Homo sapiens: one gene and its partner. The protein of the gene in region 1 purifies or fractionates together with the protein of each later gene. This does not show direct contact. Each region holds a gene or a part of one and is shown in the gene's direction. Other genes may lie near its edges. The genes, in order: FCRL2 and METAP2.

What was found.
Region 2: the proteins of FCRL2 (region 1) and METAP2 purify together in Homo sapiens (affinity purification with mass spectrometry; 2 studies listed by BioGRID and IntAct, with this or other methods). This does not show direct contact.

The regions. Positions count from the first base shown.
Region 1 is NC_000001.11:157,745,833-157,753,132, reverse strand, and holds part of FCRL2 (Fc receptor-like protein 2 isoform 1 precursor), read left to right. Parts: intron 1-3,455; coding exon 3,456-3,483; intron 3,484-4,172; coding exon 4,173-4,258; intron 4,259-4,514; coding exon 4,515-4,580; intron 4,581-6,233; coding exon 6,234-6,262; intron 6,263-6,332; coding exon of another isoform or gene 6,333-6,358; coding exon 6,359-6,397; coding exon of another isoform or gene 6,398-6,471; 3' UTR 6,472-7,300. UniProt on the Homo sapiens protein: May have an regulatory role in normal and neoplastic B cell development.
Region 2 is NC_000012.12:95,512,083-95,516,570, forward strand, and holds the end of METAP2 (methionine aminopeptidase 2), read left to right. Parts: intron 1-718; coding exon 719-834; intron 835-1,569; coding exon 1,570-1,822; 3' UTR 1,823-3,757; downstream 3,758-4,488. UniProt on the Homo sapiens protein: Cotranslationally removes the N-terminal methionine from nascent proteins. The N-terminal methionine is often cleaved when the second residue in the primary sequence is small and uncharged (Met-Ala-, Cys, Gly, Pro, Ser, Thr, or Val).

The DNA.
Region 1 (7,300 bases):
AAAAGCAGTTCAGCTATACTAAATATCTGATACTATTCAGATCTAACTTTGATGCCCTATTCTGTTTGTGTGTATGTCAGTGTGTGCATACGTGTGTTTGTGTGTGTGACTTGTATGCCTTCGCTTTATAACAATACATTTTTTATTCCATCAAGGTTGTTCCCATCATGACTATGCTATTCTTACAGAACTTTTCTGGATATTATTGCTTACTTATTTTCCCTACAAACAATATAATCAGTGTCTCTCAACAAAGTAGTTTTGTTAGGATTCTCTTAAATTTTGAGATTAATTAAGGAAGAATTGACAGCTTTATAATGAGAAATGTTTCTATCCAAGAGTGTGTCTACTTTTGGTAAATTTTGAGTCATAGTATTTTAGAGTTTTACTTATATAGGCTTTCACCATTTCTTGCTAAGTTTACTCCTGAGATATTGATTAATTTTTGCTATGATAACTGATTCATCTAACAAGGGTACTCTTAGAGTGCAACCATAAAATTTAATTTTTTATCTTCCTCTTCCTACTGCCCATTCACACTCAGTCTTAGAGGATTATATTTTCCCTGACTCTGGTTGAAATCGCAGGCAGGCCCATAGTCTATCCACTTACTCCTTGTATTAGTCGGTTTTCATGCTGCTAATAAAGACATACCTGAGACAGGGCAATTTACAAACGAAAGAGGTTTAATTGGACTTATAGTTCCACATGGCTGGGGAAACCTCACAGTCATGGCAGAAAACCAGGAGGAGCAAGTCACATCTTATGTGGATGGCGGCAGGCAAAGAGATAAGCTTGTGCAGGGAAACTCCTCTTTTTAAAACCATCAGATCTTGTGAGTCTTATTCACTATCATGAGAACAGCACGGGAAAGACTTGCTCCCATGATTCAGTTACCTCCCACTGGGTACCTCCCACAACATGTGGGAATTCCAGATGAGATTTGGGTGGGGACACAGCCACACCATATCACTCCTATATAATTTTAGGCAAACAACAACAAAAACATAGTTTCTCCAAAGAGCGCTTGTTCATTAAGCAGCTTTCTGAATCTCAAAGTTAAAGCACTCACCTCCCACCCACTCAGCTCAGACCCTCTTCAGGCCAGCCTTCTGCAATATGGAAAGGGTTCTGGCCAGATGTTTCTCTCTTTCCTCAACTTGCTTCTGTTTTTGAAACCCCCATGGCTGGCATTGATTTCCTCTGGCTCTGAAAAAGCTGACTCTCCAGGTTTGCTCGGTTGAGAAAATCAGCTCCTATTTTGGGGGTGTGTTTCTGGATTCTCCAGAGCCCCCCAACTATTAACATTACCTACCTGCATCTTGTGATGCAGGTGATTCATTCTTCTCCAGCTGAGCACTTAACATCTCTCTTCAGTTTCCAAGAATCTAAAGTCTTCTTCCTCTTCCCCTCCACCCTTATTTTGGAACCCTATACCTCTTCAGGAAGTCCTCTTGGCCAGATTTTGAAATGGCTTCAAGCTTTGCCTCTCTTCCACAGGGCTCAGATCCATCCACAAGAAACACTTGCACACCATTGCACCCACCTGTAAATATGCAGCTCCTGCCTCAGGCAGATGACCGTATCTCCCCTGAAATGAATGTTCCTTTATCTGCTTTTCAAGGCTCCTTAAGATTTTTCAGGCATGTGTCCACACGGGGCACTCCTCCCCACACCAAGCTGGCCTTAATATTGTCCTCCGATTGACTATAGGCTCCTCATCTCCCTTTTCTTAGAGCATTTACTTTAGAAAACTTGCAATTGTAAATTCTTTCTCTGCCTCCTTGAGATATAAATCTTCTCTTAGCCTCTTGCCAGTTTTACAACCCAGAAATGTCTATCTCTAAGACTTGGGAGCCAGCCCTTTGAAATGTAACCATCTAGAAAGATAGTGCCTCTATCTCCTGTATGGTAAAACTCTTAGAATTTATTATTTGATCTACCAATATTTCTTTCTAATTCTAGAATTCTGCTTTTATCTTTGTTAGTTATTGCCTTCTATTTTTGTTAGTTTGATTCTTTTGAACAAATTGGATATTGAGTCTTCCTTTTTTTCTTATATATTTGTATACGTATTCAGTTGCTTAAGACTTGCTTCCTTTAAATTGACAAATTATAGACATATGTCAATTTTTTCATAGTTTTGTTATGAATTACCAGTTCCATTATGATCAAGGAATATTATTTGTACCATGTCGATTTTTGGAATATTTTGGAGGTTTTCTTTGTGAACCAATGTATCATCACATTTTGTTATTATTCAAAAGTGCTTAGATAGTAGAACTATTTTTGAAGTCCATTTTAAAATAATTTCTTCAAGAAGGAATTGCTGGAAACATATACACTAATTTAATACATGTTTGAATATGACTGACTGCCCCTTACTTATGCTTTAATGACAGTTTGGCTTGGTAGACAATTCTGAGGTCATTCCTTTCCATGAAGACTAAACAAGCTAATTATAAAGAAGTTTTACCTTCTCCTTGGAAAACTAAATCAAAGTTAATTTTCTAGCACTGTTTTCTGTAAAGCCTAACAAAGTTGAAATATTGGCTGAGCTACTAGCAGTATTTTCCATGATAGGCAAACTGCCTCTACACTGGGAGGACTTTGACCACGATTATATAAGCCTGATGGGAAGCACAACTGGGGTATCCCCAAATGCAATGTAACTCTTGAAATTTAGCATGTCTCTTGTAGTAGTGACCTCTGGAAGCTACACACATACACTCATGGGTGTTACAAGCGATACTGATTTCTACGAAGCATGAAGCTTTTGAGCTGGGGTGGCCTCTATATACATCTATGTGGCATTGTTTCCTGAGGTATTAATGGAGGACTAGAAAATATCTCCTGGATCGCTATGAGGATTCTCTTTAAACACACAGCTGATACATCTATGCTAATATACTGCGTTTCTTGTTTTACATCTCTCCACAAAGCAAAATGGTACAAGAGATGGCCTAGTTCGCCTTACGAATGTCAACATCCAGCTTAGCCCCAAGATCATTCCTAAAGACTAAGTGTTGCAAATATCAAACATTTAAAAATTAAGAATGGCTGCATAAAATCTAATACAGAAGAGCAATAAAATAAAATTAGTCATCAATGGTTAAAATATGTTATACATTAGGATAGTTAAAACAACATTGTACAGGTACATGAATAGACAAAGAGACAATAGAACAGAATAGAAAATAAAGAAACAGTTACCAGTGCATGACGGGTTTGCCATTTGAAGTGGCATTTTAAATCAGTGGGAAAAAAAGAATGAATTATTTTACTAACAACTAGTTGTGTTGGAATAAATAAGTAGCCATTTAGATGAAATACAATTGGATTACTCTTCTATATCTTATGTCTTACCAGCTGATTATACGTAGTTAAATCATGTCAAAATTTTAAGAGATAAAGCTTCCTTCTCTGAAATGAATTTTGTTTTATTTGCATTTCAGGAGAAAGTTCTGCCACTAATGAACCCAGGTGAGAACTCTTCCTAGTAAAAATTTTAATTCTAGAGGTCTCCTTCATTCAGTTTTAAATACCTACTGTACTCTGCTTGTACGTTGAGACTGAAGCTATGTAATTAACATGGTATCTTTCTATAATACTTACTCTTGTCTCTACTGCATTACATTTCTGCCACCAGGGCACTGTCTTAAGGTGGTCCACATGATCCTTGGTGTTATCTTGTATAGGATTACATACATTTAAATTAATATATAAATTCATATATTCAAGATTATTGAATACCTATAATGTATAAGTAAGTTTTTGTTAGATATTTAGAGGAAAGAACATACACACAAAATGTGTATTTCCTCCAGGGACATACTGTGCTATAGGTATGTAGTATATGTCCAGAGTACAAGAAGGAGTGAGAGAGATAAAGTAATGAGAAAAAGGCAGGCAAAGTTTTATGACAGTTTATAAGAAAAAAAAAGATTCTGGAGCAATATCATTGTCTTATTTATAACTTTTGAAAAAGCCAAAGATAAGGAACAGAAGTTTTGGCCATATCAAAGTAGATAGTCTACACAAAGGGCCATAAAATCACCCAAGCAGAGAGCCATGGCTGCAGGGCTTCCACCTGCTCTCTCCTCAGCCAGTCTCCCCTCTGTTCTCACTCACTGCCCTGGGGATTATCATACAATTAATTCACTTTCTCACAGAGGGGCTTCCAGGCCAAATCCTCAAGAGTTCACCTATTCAAGCCCAACCCCAGACATGGAGGAGCTGCAGCCAGTGTATGTCAATGGTGAGTGTCTCCACTGGGAAGGGCTCTGAGGCTGAGTCAGAAAAGAAAGAGGAGACAGGAGCGGAGACCATTAGGTGGGTGGTGTAGACACCCCAACACCAGAGGCCCAGCCATTCCCAATAAATAACAGACTCTCTCAGAATCATGTTGGGGTTGAGAGGAAGGATATAATCATTAAGCCAGGGCCTGGGAAGCTGTGTATGAAGTGTGAACCCTGGGCCACCAACATCTGTGAACTCTTGTCTTCTCCCTGCAGTGGGCTCTGTAGATGTGGATGTGGTTTATTCTCAGGTCTGGAGCATGCAGCAGCCAGAAAGCTCAGGTGAGAAACTGCAAAGTAGTTCTTGTCAGATGCATATTCACAGGAAAGTGATGCATTGTTTGCAATAGAGGCTTTATTTATTTATTTATTTATTTATTTATTTATTTATTTGTCTATCTATCTATCTACTTTTGAGGAGCCTTGCTCTGTTGCCCAGGCTGGAGTGCAGTGGTGCAATGTCAGCTCACTGCAATCTCTGCCTGTGAGCTGATACAGGAAAATTGCTTGATTTTCCTCTCTCAGACTCCTGAGTAGCTGGGATGAGAGGCATGCGCCACCACGCCCAGCTAATTTTTGTATTTTTAGTAGAGACAGGGTTTCACCATGGCTGGATTCAAACTCTTGACCTCAAGTGATCCACCCGCCTCAGCCTCCCAAAGTGCTGGGATTACAGGTGTGAGCCACTGCACCCAGCCAGCAATAGAGGCTTTAATACATCACTTGCCCTTGATAGGAAATCTGTTGATCCAGGAGGGAGCAAGAGACACCTGGAGGTAGGCTCTTGTGAAGAGAGCAAACTTAAAAAAAAAAATAGGGTGATGGTCTAATGAGTCTTCATTTGAATCGGGTTAGATAGTCAGGGAGAATCTAAGATTCAAGGCAAAAGAAGGAAATCAGGCAAGAGTGAGCATGTCTAAAGTCCAAGAGGAATTCTCTCAGGTGAACAGGGTCATTAAAGTGTCTCTTTTGAAGGATCTGTAGTCTTCATATGGGATGGGAGGAATAACTGAATAAATCAACATGACCTAGAGAATTTTCACTTTGACACGTAGCTTTGCAGGAACTGCTGAGTTCTGCAGCAGTGCAGAGGAGTGTCCTTTAAGCTTCTGCTCCAGTGCCCTTAAAACTACAATGCTTATATCAACAACCCTAAAAGCTGTCCTTTGTTCTGTACTCCTGGTTGCCTCTGATGGAGCCAGTGGCTGTTGACAGCTTGGCTGATTTCCTGGTCAGTGGTCATCTAGCTACTCTCCTCTGAGCCTCTGAAGGTGGGTCCTCTGTCTGCCTTGCTTAGATTTGCCACTTCAACTTCCTATAGGGAGTTGATTACCCTATCATTCTCTTTCTCTATCTGACCAGCCTAGCAGAATCAAAAAGTGCAGTCACTTTCCAAGCCCTCTAGCTGTAAATCTTCAAGGGAAGGAAAGGGATGTCATCCCACTATGCCTACCTGGAAAAAGGGGAAAAGAAGCAGACATCACTAAGCAGCTCCTGCAACCAGACTCAAAATACTATGTGATTCAGAGTCTGTCTTCTGTTATCTATGCTTCTATTCCAATTTCCTTCTATGTAGTGAGGTGAACCACACATGATTGGTTATCTCAGGAACATAGAGAAAGAACAGGAAACAGCCCTGACAGAATGCTGCAACAGAGAAGTCAAGAGGAAAAAATTATAAAGACAATGACCTATGGGAAGTTGCATTAGAGAAAGGAAGCGCTTTGTTAGTAAGTGCTGGTGGAGGGCTTGGAAGATGGATAGAGTCTTAGAAGGACTTCAGTATTAACAACTTTAAGAAAGGATTTTACAGAACAGGAGAAAATGGGATTCCACATACTAAGCATAGTAGTTCTATGCCCTGGGGCATAAAGTCTGGGAGTGAGGCCTAATTAAGAATGCAAGAGCTCAGAACTATTACTTTTTCCTTAACAGCAAACATCAGGACACTTCTGGAGAACAAGGTGAGCTAGACACCTTGGAATTTCTTCATCTTTCCTTCCTTCTCCCTATTTATTTTCTTGATCACCTCAGTCTTTATTCCTGTGTGTCTCTCCCAGGACTCCCAAGTCATCTACTCTTCTGTGAAGAAATCATAACACTTGGAGGAATCAGAAGGGAAGATCAACAGCAAGGATGGGGCATCATTAAGACTTGCTATAAAACCTTATGAAAATGCTTGAGGCTTATCACCTGCCACAGCCAGAACGTGCCTCAGGAGGCACCTCCTGTCATTTTTGTCCTGATGATGTTTCTTCTCCAATATCTTCTTTTACCTATCAATATTCATTGAACTGCTGCTACATCCAGACACTGTGCAAATAAATTATTTCTGCTACCTTCTCTTAAGCAATCAGTGTGTAAAGATTTGAGGGAAGAATGAATAAGAGATACAAGGTCTCACCTTCATCTACTGTGAAGTGATGAGAACAGGACTTGATAGTGGTGTATTAACTTATTTATGTGCTGCTGGATACAGTTTGCTAATATTTTGTTGAGAATTTTTGCAAATATGTTCATTGGGAATATTGGCCTGAAATTTTCTTTTCCACTGTGTCTCTGCCAGAATGTTTGTATCAGGCTGATGCTGGCTTCATAGAATGAGTTAGGCAGGAGCCCTTCCTCCTTGATTTTTTGGCATAGTTTCAGCAGGATTGGTACCAGTTATTCTTTCTGCATCTTGTAGAATTCAGCTATGAATCCATCTGGTCTAGGGCTTTTGTGTTGGTTGGTAAGTTTTTTATTACTAATTCAACTTCAGCGCTTGATATTGGTCTAGGAGGGGTTTCTGTCTCTTCCTGGTTCAATCTTGGGAGATTGTGTGTTTCCAGGAATTTAGCCGTTTCCTCCAGATTTTCTTCTTTATGTGCATCGACTTGAGTGTAAACATAACTTATATGCACTGGGAAACCAAAAAATCTGTGTGACTTGCTTTATTGCAGCATTTGTTTTATTTTGGTAGTCTGGAACTGAACCTGCAATATCACCAAAGTATGCATATA
Region 2 (4,488 bases), on another chromosome or scaffold:
TACTGACCAGAATTAGCTGCTTATCATCCATATTCACCCTGCCAGGAATTGGGCCATTTGAATTTGCAAATTGTGTATAGTCAGCACTAAATCAGTTGTGGAAATTGGGGCTGTGAAAGGGTTGTTTATTCAACATTTAATGAATATTTATTGAGCATTCTCAGGTGCCAGTCTCTTTATAGTAGGCTCTAGGGGTAGAGCTGTGAACATAATTCATAGGGGGAAGCAGAAAGACCAAAAAGTGCTAAGGAGATAAAGCAGGGCAAGGCTAGATAAGGACCGCCAGGGGCTATTTCATGTTGCTGCTTAATCAGGTAGAGACTTCAAGAGATGGTAATTGTAGGCCAGGCTCGGTAGCTCAGGCCTGTTAATCCCAGCACTTTGAGACACCAAGGCAGGCAGATCACCTGAGTGAGGTCAGGAGTTTGAGACCATCCTGGCCAACATGGTGGAACCTTGTATCTACTAAAAATACAAAAATTAGCCAGGCATGGTGGCACGTGCCTGTAGTCCCACCTACTCGGGAGGCTGAGGCAGGAGAATCGCTTGAACCTGGAAAGTGGAGGTTGCAGTGAGCCAAGATCTCACCACTGCACTCCAGCCTGGCAGCAGAGAGAGACTCTGTCTCAAAAAGAGAGAGAGAGAAAGAGAGATGGTAATTGTGATTCGTTCTGAATTTTTCTTCTTTCTCTCCCCTTGACCCTTATTTATTTTTCAGGAAGGAGAAGTATATGCAATTGAAACCTTTGGTAGTACAGGAAAAGGTGTTGTTCATGATGATATGGAATGTTCACATTACATGAAAAATTTTGATGTTGGACATGTGCCAATAAGGTGAGAGACGAGACGATTGATTTTATGTGGCTAATTAGCATCTCTTCTGAGTTAACAGCATTTCTAAAAAATGTGGCATACATACAAAATAGTATATTCATGAATGTAGAGTTCTGTAGCCCAACAATAAGAAAAAAAAATAGCCTGTTAAACATTTTAACTGAGATAAAAATTACACACACACACACACACACACACACACACACACACACACACAAGTGCTCTCTTCAAGTCCGGTTTCTGATAATCATAAATGTCAGAGATTATTTTGCTAGCATTCCTAGGTTTTTGCTTTAATATTTTTCCATTGGTAAACTTCCATTTACAGCGTCTTTCAATTTACATTGAAATTTTTTAACATTTGAAGATGATTGAAATCTGCATTTACATCTTTTATATGCAGGTCTTTGAGCTTGCTGCACACAAAAGGAAATTCACATCATAATACCCTGTAGTAGGTCTCTAGTGGGGAATATAACACACACACACGCACACGCGCGCGCACGTAGACACGTAAACATGATAAGATGGCCTCCAGCTGGTGTCCTATTCAGCTGCCATCTATAATTAGGTATGGGCTATTATACATTCTGGCTTTTGATTGTTGAAAGAGCAACAATAAAAGTTTTTGGACTTCAACTACTAGGACACAGCTAAGGTCTGGGCTTTTCTTAATGAGGGAAATCAGTTCGTAACTCTTTTGCCAACAGTTAATTTTGGATTTTCTCCTCTTAGGCTTCCAAGAACAAAACACTTGTTAAATGTCATCAATGAAAACTTTGGAACCCTTGCCTTCTGCCGCAGATGGCTGGATCGCTTGGGAGAAAGTAAATACTTGATGGCTCTGAAGAATCTGTGTGACTTGGGCATTGTAGATCCATATCCACCATTATGTGACATTAAAGGATCATATACAGCGCAATTTGAACATACCATCCTGTTGCGTCCAACATGTAAAGAAGTTGTCAGCAGAGGAGATGACTATTAAACTTAGTCCAAAGCCACCTCAACACCTTTATTTTCTGAGCTTTGTTGGAAAACATGATACCAGAATTAATTTGCCACATGTTGTCTGTTTTAACAGTGGACCCATGTAATACTTTTATCCATGTTTAAAAAAGAAGGAATTTGGACAAAGGCAAACCGTCTAATGTAATTAACCAACGAAAAAGCTTTCCGGACTTTTAAATGCTAACTGTTTTTCCCCTTCCTGTCTAGGAAAATGCTATAAAGCTCAAATTAGTTAGGAATGACTTATACGTTTTGTTTTGAATACCTAAGAGATACTTTTTGGATATTTATATTGCCATATTCTTACTTGAATGCTTTGAATGACTACATCCAGTTCTGCACCTATACCCTCTGGTGTTGCTTTTTAACCTTCCTGGAATCCATTTTCTAAAAAATAAAGACATTTTCAGATCTGAGAGCTACATCTCAATGTCTGTGGTTATAATTCTGGACAGGATAAATAGCTAAACTTAATGTAGGCAAATGCAGAGACATTTATCTGAAATGTAGACCTCTACACTGAGACTTTTCTGGCATAGTGGCTAAAACAAGATCTACACATGCATAAAAAGGGACAATCACCTTTTCTTCATAAATATACAGCTTTAGGAATATTTCACCATTCTTTGTAGGACATAGTAGTCCTTGTCTTTTTTTCTCCTGACATTGGAAAGATGTGCTAATTGAAACTTGACTTAGTAGGAACATTGTGCCAACTCAAAACCTTGATTTAGTAAAAATCTCAATGTTTAGATCCTTTGTCCAGTGGTGGTGTTTATCAGGGAATGTATTCAGCTTGCTCAGAAAACCAAAAGGGTATTAAAGCCACAAAAGCAAAGAAGAAAAAAAAAAACTTCCCATGTTTGGATCTTGTTCTAGTTAGAAAAATTAAGTTGAAATTCTTGGACTTTTTCATTCATGAGGCAAATGCTGTAATACCTTCCCCTTTGACAGGTTTGGATTCTTAACATTACTAGTGGTATTTCAGGAAGTGACGTTACAGTTACTTTCCTTATAGCGGCTAAGTGTATTAAGTTGAATGTAACGATGGTAATATTAATTTGTTTGAACTGAGGCCCACTACTGATTCTTTGACAAATTGAATTCTTATATTTAAATAATTTTATGGGAATGTTCCATCATAATTTCTAAATCATTTATATATCAAGGTAGCCTTAATTTGTATATGTTTCAGTACAATGAGATTTTATTGCCTCTGGGATGCTGTTTAGTTTGTATTTTGTTGAACGTTTTTATCCTAGGAAGAGAAACCTATGACTTGTGTACCTAGATCATCTGTTACATTAAAAAGCTGCTCTTTCAGCATTAGAGCTATAAATGAATGTTACCTTGTCGGGAAACAATCTAGGTTTTAGCTGTATGAGCTATGTTTATTATGGTGCTAATGTTCAGTAGCCACATTTGACTAATGTCTCCATTCTCTGTGATGCTGTGGCTAGCAGCAGAGCTCGCCAGTTCATGCCTGGACATACTGTCAGGGCTGGGCCCTCCAGCTAGCTCCTTTGGGGTTGAGTCCGTATCTTTTTGATGTGGAAGTATAAAGCAAGTATCTTGATTTCTAAACCCAGCAATTTTAGAATTGACCTTTATGAGTGAAGACTTTTGGAGCTTTTAAAGACCTTGGCAGTCATGATCTCAAACCAATTAGGAGCTCCAAGCTCCCTTCCCAGGTAACTGTTGGGAGCAATGGCATCACTGTATGCCCTTGTAATGGCTGGAAGGGACATGATCTTGTAAGTAGGAAAGCTGTAACTAAAAATTGTATTGTTTGCTTATTAGCCATGTATCTCTTAAAATTTTGTTATGTTTACAACGATGTACCTTATTGGCAACAAGTTATTAGTTTGATGTTTAACAATAGTGCCTTTAGTAAATTATTTTACAACTAAAACATGTTGTTTTTTGTTAGATCAACTTAGCAGAATGTAGACGTCCATGTTGAGATTTAAGATAAATAGTAAGAAATCTAAGTTTCTGTTTATTGTTTAGGTTTTAATTTTATTGTTGGTATTTTGAGACATTTTTCACACTAAAATTTAGTGGAAAGTACTACAGATTTCCCAGACCCCCCCCCAATAATATCCCCCTTTTCCAAGCCTCCCCCCATAGGTGTTTGTTAGTTTTAAGGGATTAAAAAGTAAAGGGCTAAGTCACTTTGTTTTTTTTTTTTTTTTTTTTTTTTTTTTTTTTAGCGGGAGTCTCGCTCTGTCACCCAGGCTGGAGTGCAGTGGCGCGATCTCAGCTCACTGCAGCCGGGTTCAAGCTATTCTCCTGCCTCAGCCTCCTGAGTAGCTGGACTATAGATGCATGCTACCACGCCTGGCTAATTTTTTTTTTTTTTGTATTTTTAGTAGAGATGGGGTTTCACTGTGTTAGCCAGGATGGTCTTGATCTCCTGACCTTGTGATCTGCCCGCCTCGGCCTTCCAAAGTGCTGGGATTACAGGCATGAGCCATGGCGTCCGGCCTCTTGTATGTTTTTATATTGAAATAAGTACAAGCAACGATACCATTACAAATAGCTCAGGAGTTTTTACAGTTCCATTAAAATGACGTGCTAAAATGTATAACGTTAAAAATAGTCCTTGAAATTAGAAAAGAGTAGACTCTGGTTATCTTGACC